Linked DNA regions of Homo sapiens. The protein of the gene in region 1 interacts with the protein of each later gene in a pairwise test. Each region holds a gene or a part of one and is shown in the gene's direction. Other genes may lie near its edges. The genes, in order: HEMGN, TLR2 and HMG20A.

Region 1 (3,658 bases):
GATATATACTGTAGCAACTTAGAATTCTTTACACAAAATAATGTATTTGATAATCAAGCCATATACAGCATCCACCTGCAGGCTGCACAGACGAGGAGCTGTGCCAGGTCTAGAAACTCGATTTGTATGAGTTTACTCAGGGGTAGGGAAGTAACACACAAAGACTAAATGCAAAGAGACTAGTGTATAAACCAGAATGCCACTCTATTAATTTGTAATGAGAATTATTTATTTTCCATAACAAAACTTTAAGAATATGCTATAACACACGCACGCACGCATACGCGCATGCACTACCCTCACCAAGAAGGCTCCTGGTAAGCATGGTATCAATGCCACGAAGTCCTGGAGAAACATTCCCTCTCCTAAGAATTGAGAACATCTAGAGCTGCTCCTTCATTTTACAAACAAGGAGATTGAGGCCCAGAGAGATTAAGTGACTAGTTCATGATACTTGTGCAATGAGGCAGTGGGGGACCTGGCACTGTTATTACAAGCATTTATTTGAATTCTGTAGTACCACTGCTGACACTAATTCTGTTCTTTCTGCAGAGAACAGAAAAAACGCAAGCAGCAGAGAACAGGAAAAGGAAATCGAAGAGGCAGAAAGAGACAACAAAACACAGAATTGAAGGTGGAGCCTCAGCCACAGATAGAAAAGGAAATAGTGGAGAAAGCACTGGCACCTATAGAGAAAAAAACTGAGCCACCTGGGAGCATAACCAAAGTATTTCCTTCAGTAGCCTCCCCGCAAAAAGTTGTGCCTGAGGAACACTTTTCTGAAATATGTCAAGAAAGTAACATATATCAGGAGAATTTTTCTGAGTACCAAGAAATAGCAGTACAAAACCATTCTTCTGAAACATGCCAACATGTGTCTGAACCTGAAGACCTCTCTCCTAAAATGTACCAAGAAATATCTGTACTTCAAGACAATTCTTCCAAAATATGCCAAGACATGAAGGAACCTGAAGACAACTCTCCTAACACATGCCAAGTAATATCTGTAATTCAAGACCATCCTTTCAAAATGTACCAAGATATGGCTAAACGAGAAGATCTGGCTCCTAAAATGTGCCAAGAAGCTGCTGTACCCAAAATCCTTCCTTGTCCAACATCTGAAGACACAGCTGATCTGGCAGGATGCTCTCTTCAAGCATATCCAAAACCAGATGTGCCTAAAGGCTATATTCTTGACACAGACCAAAATCCAGCAGAACCAGAGGAATACAATGAAACAGATCAAGGAATAGCTGAGACAGAAGGCCTTTTTCCTAAAATACAAGAAATAGCTGAGCCTAAAGACCTTTCTACAAAAACACACCAAGAATCAGCTGAACCTAAATACCTTCCTCATAAAACATGTAACGAAATTATTGTGCCTAAAGCCCCCTCTCATAAAACAATCCAAGAAACACCTCATTCTGAAGACTATTCAATTGAAATAAACCAAGAAACTCCTGGGTCTGAAAAATATTCACCTGAAACGTATCAAGAAATACCTGGGCTTGAAGAATATTCACCTGAAATATACCAAGAAACATCCCAGCTTGAAGAATATTCACCTGAAATATACCAAGAAACACCGGGGCCTGAAGACCTCTCTACTGAGACATATAAAAATAAGGATGTGCCTAAAGAATGCTTTCCAGAACCACACCAAGAAACAGGTGGGCCCCAAGGCCAGGATCCTAAAGCACACCAGGAAGATGCTAAAGATGCTTATACTTTTCCTCAAGGTAAGGGCTGTTTATAGCACCAAGGTAGGTACATCTCCCCCAGAGTAGTGATTTACAACTTTCTCTGACAATCCTGGGTATTCCCTGTTATTTCAATGGATACTGTGAATTTCATTGACTAGTTTTAAGTGAACAATATTTTCATGCAACCAACGTCTGTCTTGGCATATTTCAAAGAGTTAAAAAAATTGAAAATGCAAGCATGTACATTAAGTACTTATTCATACTATCCATCCATTATGAGATGCTATAGTCAGTGAAATGAACCCAATATAGGATGAATTATTGCAAAATATTTTTAAAAATTAAGTCTACATTAACAAGAAAGCTTGATGAATGAAGTTTTTCTAGGAAATTTAATTTGCCTGATAAATGGAAAGCAGGTAAATTCATAGTACGAAGTACTGAGGGAGATAAAAGCTGTAAAATATAATCCTGTTACTAGGGAATTCATTCTTGTAGGATTTATCAGGTTTACCAAAAACCCTTTCTATTTCAAGATTTGTTCCTGAAAAACTTTTTCCTAAGTATAGGAATTTGAAAATAATGCAACCTTTCTTTAATTTCACTTGCCTCAGAGACATAACTGAGAACTTCAGCTCTCTTTGTACAATACTGTAGACAGTATAAGAAATGGACTGAGTCTATCAGACCATAGTTATCCCCAGGAAACTGATTTCTAAAGAAATCCCTTTAGTAGTTTACTTGCTCTTTATCCTAAAAGATGAGTGCAACAAAAACATGGTGCTAGTTGGTTTCCAAGTAATACCAGTTTTGAAGAACTACTTTAAAGAAATACATTGCAGCAAAAGCAGGCATGTGAAGCAGTACGTGCACTGACAGGAGTACCCTGCTGGAGAAGCAGCTCTAACCAACACAGCGTCCTGATTCCTAACTGCTTCATTCTAAACCCAGCAAGGTCGATATGGTCAATTAATTAACGCTTATTTTATTTTTGGCTTTGTTTGACCAAATAAATGGGAATATCTATTTTTCCTGATTATAAAAGTAGTAAGTGTTCATTATAATAAAGCAATATGTAAGTGAATATCAAGTAAAGTAAAAGTCCCCTATAATACCATCTTCTATCTTCAGTTCCCAATGTTAAGGTTGTTTTGTTTCAACAAATGAGACAGTACCCATCCTATCCTGTAACTTGTTTTTGTTTTCATTTACAATATGTATTGCAGCCATCTTTATGATGTCTTTTGTAACAACTGCATAGTACTGTGCTATATGTATATTCAACCAGTCTCTATAAGGATGAACACTTAGGTTACTGCCAAGTTTTACTATTACAACAATGTTCAATGAACATCATTGGGAATAACATTTATTTAGTTAACATTTATCTGGTACTTTTCTATGTGCCAGACACCATATTAAATATTTTATGTGGTTTATTTTATTCAATGTTAAAAGCTCTACTGGATAAATAATACTCCCATTCTAAATATAAGGAAATGGAGGCACTGGAGGCTGAAGTTTGTCTGATTATTTCCTTTGAATCAACCCCTAGAAATCAAATTGTTGGGCCAAACGGTACCCAAATTTAAAGTTTGAATATACAGTCAGTCAGACTAGCCTCCAGAAATGTGGTAGCAATTCACACGAGACAGGTGCCTTTTCCCCACACCCTTGTCAGCACTGTACATTATGACATTTTAAAAATCCTTGTCTGTCTGCTAGGTTAAAAAATACACTTGATCGGCCGGGCGCGGTGGCTCACGCCTGTAATCCCAGCACGTTGGGAGGCCGAGGTGGGCGGATCACGAGGTCAGGAGATCGAGACCATTCTGGCTAACACGATGAAACCCCGTCTCTACTAAAATTACAAAAAATTAGCCGGGCGCGGTGGCGGGCGCCTGTAGTCCCAGCTACTCGGGAGGCTGAAGCAGGAGAATGGCGTGAACCCGGGA
Region 2 (3,658 bases), on another chromosome or scaffold:
CTGGATAATAGCTTTAGCTTCTTTCCAGGTACTGTTATATCTGCATTTGAGACCAGAGGCATTAACATGGGTTAAATTGTGAAAGTGTCTAGCATTAGATATTGCAGTAGCAACTAGGCGATCAGCCATTTGATTCCCTTCAGTTAAAGGTCCTGGAAGAGGTGTATGAGCCCTAATGTGAGTGATGTAAAAAGGGTGCATTCTACTCCTAAATGCTGTTTGCAATTGGGTAAATAAAGTCATCAGTTGTTCATCTGTATGAAGTCATAACTGAGCATTTTCAATTAATTGTATGGAATGAACCACATAGGAAGAATCAGAAATCACATTAATAGGCATATCAAAAGCAGTCAATACCTCAATTACAGCTAAAGCTCCACTTTTTGAGCTGAAGTATAGGGCGTGTGAAAAACTTTACCTTTTGATCCAGAATAAGAGGCTTTACCATTACAAGACCCATCTGTAAAAACATTCTCAGCACCTTCAGTTGGTTTAAATTTAGTTATTTTGGGGAGAATCCAATTAGTTAATTTCAAAAATTGAAATAATTTCATTTTAGGAAAATGATTATCAAGAATACCCACAAAGTCAGCTAAATGGGTTTGCCAAGTAAGACTATTTATAGAAGCTTGCTGTATTTGTGCCTTTGTGAGAGGGACAATAATTTTTCCAGGATCATATCCATGTAATTTAACAATCCGAATTCTCCCATTTCTTATCATCGTAGCCATTTGATCCAAATAAGGAGTTAGAGTCTGTGAATTAGTATGTGGAAGAAAAAGCCACTGTACAAAGTCTTGCTCTTATACAATAACACCAGTAAGTGAATGCTGAGTTGGAAAAATTAGCAAATCTAGGGTCTTTTTTGGATCTATTCTATTTATTTGAGATTTATGGATTTGCTTTTTGATTAGCTGCAGCTCTGCCTCAGCTTCTTTTGTTAATTGCTGAGGGCTAATGAGACTAGGATCTCCTCTAAGGATAGAAAATAGATTACTCAGGGCATAGGTGGGAATGCCTAGAGCAGGTCATATCCGATTAATGTCCCCTAGTAATTTTTGAAAGTCATTTAATGTTTTCAATTGATCCCTACGTATAGTTACTTTCTGTGGCACAATGGTAGTGTCATTTACTAAGGTCCCCAAGTAGGAGTAAGGAGTAGTAGTCTGAATTTTGTCAGGAGCTATATAATTAAACTGGCATGAGAAATCGAGTTTTGCAAGTGATCATAACATTGGAGTAATATTTCTTGAGTGGGGGCAGCACAAAGTATATTATCCATATAATGAATAATGTAACACTGTGAAAATTTTTTACGAGTAGGTTCAATTGCTTGCCCTTCATAAGTCTGGCAAATTTTTGAACTGTTTCACATGCCTTGTAGCAACACTTTCCAATACAAATGCTTTAGTATGCTGCAGGTTTTTTACTGCAGGAATTGTAAATGCAAACAGTTCACAGCCTTGCTCAGCTAAGGGGATAGTAAAGAAACAGTCTTTTAAATTTATGACTATTAAAGGCCAATTTTTTGGAATCATAGCAGAAGAAGGCAGTCCCGGCTGCAATGTCCCCATAGGTTGTATAACTGAATTAATGGCTCTTAAGTCAGTTAACATTCTGCATTTACCTGATTTTTTCTTAATTACAAAAACTGGAGAATTCCAAGGGGAAAATGTTGAGCTATGTGTCCTTTTTCTAATTGTTCAGCAACTAAGTCCTCTAAAGCCTCCAGTTTCTCTTTACTCAGCAGCCATTGTGCTATCCAAATTGGCTTATCTGTTAACCATTTTAAAGGTATATAGGTTCTGGAGGCTTAACAATGGCCACCATCAAAAATGATATCCTAAACCTTGGTGGGAACTTTGTCTTTCCGCTTGAAGCATTTCCTTCAAAGCTTGCAAATTTTTTCCTAGTCCCATACCAGGGACATACCCCATTTCATGCATCATATGTTGACTTTGAGGGCTGTATAATTATTCTGGAATTAGAACTTGTGATCCCCATTGTTGTAATAAATCTCTTCCCTATAAATTTATAGGTACAGAAGTTATAATTTTTTGTATAGTCCCAGGTTGTCCATTGGGCCCTTCACAATGCAAAATATAACTACTTTGATATACTTTAAGGGCTTTACCAACTCCAACTATGTTAAATTGAGCAGGTTGAATTGACCATGCAGATGGCCAGTGCTGTACAGAAATGATTGAAATGTCCGCTCCTGTATCTACCAAACTTTTAAATTTCTTTCCCTGAATAGTTATTTCACCAGTAGGATGTTTATCAGTAATTTGATTCACCCAATAAGCTGCTTTGCCTTGTTTATTTGTGCTTCCAAATCTTCCTGTTCATTTAATTTCACTTTTCCCCATTTCCACATATGGCATAATCAGGAGCTGTGCTATATGCTCTCCTGGCTCTGCTTTCCAGGGAACAGAAGTAGATATAACAATTTGAATTTCCCCTTTGTAATCTGAATCAATGACTCCTGTTTGTACTTGCACGCCTTTTAAATTTAAACTAGACCTACCTAGAAGTAATCCTACCATCCCCGCTGGCATCATCTGACTGGAGACAGCAACCTTCTTTAACAGTCCCATTACAAAAGGAGAACCTGTTCCATATGGATTAATAGCTTGTTTAAATTCTTTGAGTAATTTAAAAGGAAAAGGCTCAAATGTAGCTATAATATTTCCCTGTTGATCTACGGGGTATATTCTAACAGGGAACTGCTAAGCCTCTATATCACCCTCTCTTCTAACTTGCTGAATTCCTGGCTGAATAGAACTGAGAGTGGTCGCTCGAGGTGCTGCTCAGTCACTGGGGCGACTACTTTTTGCCCAGTGTCCTCTGGAAAAGAAAGATCTGGAGGATCAGGCTACTCTTTTGCTTCGAAATAATGAGGGGGTGCAGAAGGGTAGGGACAAACCTCTCCCTCCTTTGCCACTTTAGCTTTAGCTGGCAAACAAACCTGCTCTGTCACCTCTTCTGTTACTTCATTATACTTTCCTTCCTCCTCATCTTTAGTGTGAAAAGGTTCCAAGGTGGAATGAGCTAGAGCCCACACTTGCCCATTGTTACCCTGATGCTTCCGAGCTCCCCTTCTTACTCACCATGGGGATTGCTTAAGAGTACTCGGGTATCCTCCAGCTTTGTTCCACGTTTTCCAACCATTGCTCCAGCGAGCCTTCATCCTGGGTTTGAGTCCCCACGTTGGGCGCCACTTGCCGAGACCAGCTCGGTCGTGGAGACCCTAACCCAGCAGTGCTAGAGGAATTAAAGACACACACACAGAAACATAGAGTGTGGAGTGGGAAATCAGGGGATTCACAGCCTTCAGAGCTGAGAGCCCTGAACAGAGATTTACCCACGTATTTATTGACAGCAAGCCGGTGATAAGCATTATTTCTGTAGATTATAGATTAACTAAAAGTATTCCTTACAGGAAACAAAGGGATGGGCCAAAACAAAGCGATGGGCTCTGGCTAGATATCTGCAGCAGGAACACGTCCTTAAGGCACAGATCGCTCATGCTATTGTTTGTGGCTTAGGAATGCCTTAAGTGGTTTTCCATCTTGGGTGGACCAGGTGTTCCTTGCCCTCATTCCAGTAAACCCACAACCTTCAGTGTGGGCGTCATGGCCATCACAAACATGTCACA
Region 3 (3,658 bases), on another chromosome or scaffold:
GGGTTGAGGATTAAAGAAAGTATCTTAAGAACCTGAATGGTTTTTCACCTTACTGCTTTGCTGTCTCTATTTCATAGCCTTCACAGGTATTCAAATGAGAATACCCTTTACGTGACTTTTCATTATTTAAGCAAAAGTTTAGAGTGTCTACTATATGCCAGTCACTGTTCTCAGGACTTTGAATACAGTAAATACGGCCAAATATTCATATTCTACTGTAGTTTACTCTCTAATTTACAAATTAAAACTAGAATTTTGCTCCCTTGGTATTCCTAAATAAGATCTATGTTATGATCGTTGTTCAGACTGGGTAAAGAAGCAGCCCTAAACTTGATCTCTCCTGGTCTTAATCTCTAAGCCATTCTAAACCCAGATTTGAATGTTTCAGCCTAATTTTTCTCCAGACCATAGAAGCCCCTGTGTTAAATATGCAGTCCCTTTCATTGATACATGTATCATTTTCCTACCATTCTAGCTTCTTTTGTATTGTGAAAACAAATGAGAGTGAACAGTGGGGAAAATATGGGATCAGATAGGCCCAAATTCAGCACTGGTCTCTGCATTTTACTGGCTGAGCTTACTAGCTTGGTAACCATGAGCAATTTATTTGACCTCCCTAAGCCTCAGTTTTCCTAAATCCAAATGGGGTTGTTTGGTGGAATCAGAATGTTGTATGTAAATCTCCTGGTCCAATGCCTGGTGCCAGAAGCTTCATTAATGCAATTATCTTACCCCCAATCTTGCTTCTGCTACTCTGGCTATTGTGATTTGCCCACATGTCTGTTTTAAGCTTTACATTTTCCCCACAGTATGGGATGCAGTGGTAGACTGACTGAGCTTCAGCCTTGTCCCCCTATCAGCATGCTCACACAGTTGTCAAGATTTAATTTTTTTTCCTTGTGGGAAGGAGAAATCACTAATTTCCATGATTAGAAGATATACAAAATAGAAAAGTTTCAAGAAAAGGAATCTTAATCTTGGCACAAATCACTAAGGTAATTTGAATTGTTACAGGCAGACTTTCAACTCATTCTCCTAAACTTATTTAAATACGAAAACCAAAAATGACCTTTCACACTATGATCATACCTCACATTATTCATCTACACATCCAAACGGGATCGCCTCTGGGGGGAAAAAAATCTGTACTGCACCCAGCATTAATATTTTTTTTTGCTCATGCTATTTTCTGCCTGAAACACTCTTTTTTCCTAGGAATCCCCATCTATCAAAATGCCACTTTCTTTGAGGTCGTTTCTCAAGTACCACATTTAAGAAATATTTTCTGATATCCATCCTCTTCTACACTCTCCCAAACTGTACACGTTCTGTCCATTAACTCTCCAGAGCATTATACCTTTCTTACAGCACTTACTGTCCAGTGCTCCTCTTGTTTGTTTTTATTGCGTTGTTGTAGGTAGAGTTTATGCCTTCCCTAAAAGGCTGCAGACTAGGTCTTATTCCACTCTGTGCTGTCATACCTGGCACAAGACCATTCACATCATAGGTATTCAGTAAATATTTGTGGACGTGAGCTGGCTCTTGGAGTATGACAAAACTGATCAATAACTTTTGTCCACAATTATGCCCAGCATCAGCACAATGGCTATCATACATTAGACACTCAAATATCTATAAAATGAAAGAGTGAATAGTAAGTCATCATTCTCTCATTTGGGAGCTTCTTAGGGTGTCAGATAAGCATATATTAAGCACCTCCTATATAACTGGAGCTGTAAGAACTGATCTCTGCTCCTCAATTTAATTGGAAAAAAGTAAATTGTTACTAATATCTGCAGACTTTGAAGATGGTAGGTGTTTGAGTAGGGATGGCATGGAGAGCTTAATATAGAATTGTTTGCATTGTGAGAGATACCCTCTGCTACCTGAACTCAGAAACCAAATAGATTTTTATATCAAATATTTGGACACTTAACTTGTATTTCCACTCCTAGGTATATATCCAAGAGAACTTAAAACATGTTCACACAAAAACTTGCACACAAATATTTGTAGCAGCCTTATTTGTAAAAGGCAAACTCAAATGTCCATTAATTATTGGATGACTAAACAAAATGCGATATAGCCATACAATGGAATATTATTCAGCAACAAAGAGAAACAAAGTAGCAATACCTGCTGTAACATGGATAAAACTTGAAAATATTAAAGTGAAAGAAGTCACATACAAAAGGCAACCTATTATGTGATTCCATTTATTTAAGATGTCTAGATTAGGCAAAACTAATAGAGACAGAAAGTACATTAGTGGATGGGAATGGGAGTGACTGCTAGTATGGAGTTTCCTTTGGAAGTGATGAAAATGTGCCAGAATTAGATAGTGGTGGTGGTTGCATAACCTTATATACTAAAATATCTTGTATACTAATATACAGTTGACACCTGAACAATGAGGGGGTTCGGGGTGCTAACCCCTGTGTTGTCAAAAATCCATGTATAACTTCTGACTCCCCAAAAAGTTAACTACGTAAATAGCTTACTGCTGACTGGAAGCCTTACCAATAGCATAAATAGTTGATTAACACATGTTTTATATGTTACATGTACTATGTACTGTATTCTTACAATAAGCTAGAGAAAGAAAATGTTACTAAGAAAATGATAAGGAAGAAAAAATATGTTTACTATTTATTATTCGTTAAGTGGAAGTGGATTATCATAAAGGTATTCATCCTTGTCATCTTCACATTGAGTAGGCTGAGAAGGAGGAAGAGGAAAGGTTGGTCTTACTGTCTCAAGTGGTGGAGGCAGAAGAAAATCAGCATATAAGTAGACTCATGCAGTTCAACCCATGTTGTTCAAGGGTCAACTGTACAAAAAAAATCCTGAAATATACACTAAAGGGGTCAGTTTTATGGTATGTGAATTATATCTAAAAGAGAGAGATACTTAGACTTGAAGAATAGAGAATTTTGAATGGAGCCAGAAGAAAGAAGCAAGAGGTGTGAAAGCAAGGAAATGATCATTCTTTCTCAGATCCTAGAGAGAAATATAAGCAGCTAGGTACAGGGCTAAAGGTATGTTAAGGATCAGGTGAGGATGGATATGAGGATAGCTTCTGGGTTTTTGTCTTAATGTAGCAGGGATTTTGGTAAATACTTAGACTACAGAGGTATTAACAAAGGAGAAAAACATCTTATGACCTTGAAGGAAGCTTCAGATTTCTTCTTGATTAGGTCAAGGATGTGGTATATGGTCTTTTTGGTTTCTGTGTTACGGTCAGCTGAGTTTAAAGAGTGGGAGTATTCTAAGGTAAGGAGTCTAGTAGCAATCAAAACAAAGTTACTGGGGAAGATGGGAGAATAGAGACTAGACAAAGATGTTAGAATTTGATTCTAAAGCTCTCCTCAGGTAATAAAAATAGATAAATCTTAATGAGAAGGAACCAAGGGCAGTGATTTGGAGAAGTCAGTACAAATAAAGGTATTCATTTGAAGAAATATTTGAGTGCCTTTTATGTGCCAGGCACTATTAAATAAAACTATAGCTATTTTCCTTATTTGACTTTTTTTCTGAAGATAAAATCTTATGAGTGTGATTAATGGTTCTACAAGCATGGGTAGTTCTAGATATGATACCTACATTTCCCTAAAAGATTGTACTGATTTTTAATGATAACAGCAATGTATAAGGATGT

Evidence for each region.
Region 2: the proteins of HEMGN (region 1) and TLR2 interact in a two-hybrid assay, tested with the Homo sapiens proteins (one large-scale study listed by BioGRID and IntAct).
Region 3: the proteins of HEMGN (region 1) and HMG20A interact in a two-hybrid assay, tested with the Homo sapiens proteins (one study listed by BioGRID).

Annotation. Positions count from the first base shown.
Region 1 is NC_000009.12:97,928,116-97,931,773, reverse strand, and holds part of HEMGN (hemogen), read left to right. Parts: intron 1-552; coding exon 553-1,739; intron 1,740-3,658. UniProt on the Homo sapiens protein: Regulates the proliferation and differentiation of hematopoietic cells. Overexpression block the TPA-induced megakaryocytic differentiation in the K562 cell model. May also prevent cell apoptosis through the activation of the nuclear factor-kappa B (NF-kB).
Region 2 is NC_000004.12:153,690,697-153,694,354, forward strand, and holds part of TLR2 (toll-like receptor 2 precursor), read left to right. Parts: intron 1-3,658. UniProt on the Homo sapiens protein: Cooperates with LY96 to mediate the innate immune response to bacterial lipoproteins and other microbial cell wall components. Cooperates with TLR1 or TLR6 to mediate the innate immune response to bacterial lipoproteins or lipopeptides.
Region 3 is NC_000015.10:77,423,827-77,427,484, forward strand, and holds part of HMG20A (high mobility group protein 20A), read left to right. Parts: intron 1-3,658. UniProt on the Homo sapiens protein: Plays a role in neuronal differentiation as chromatin-associated protein. Acts as inhibitor of HMG20B. Overcomes the repressive effects of the neuronal silencer REST and induces the activation of neuronal-specific genes.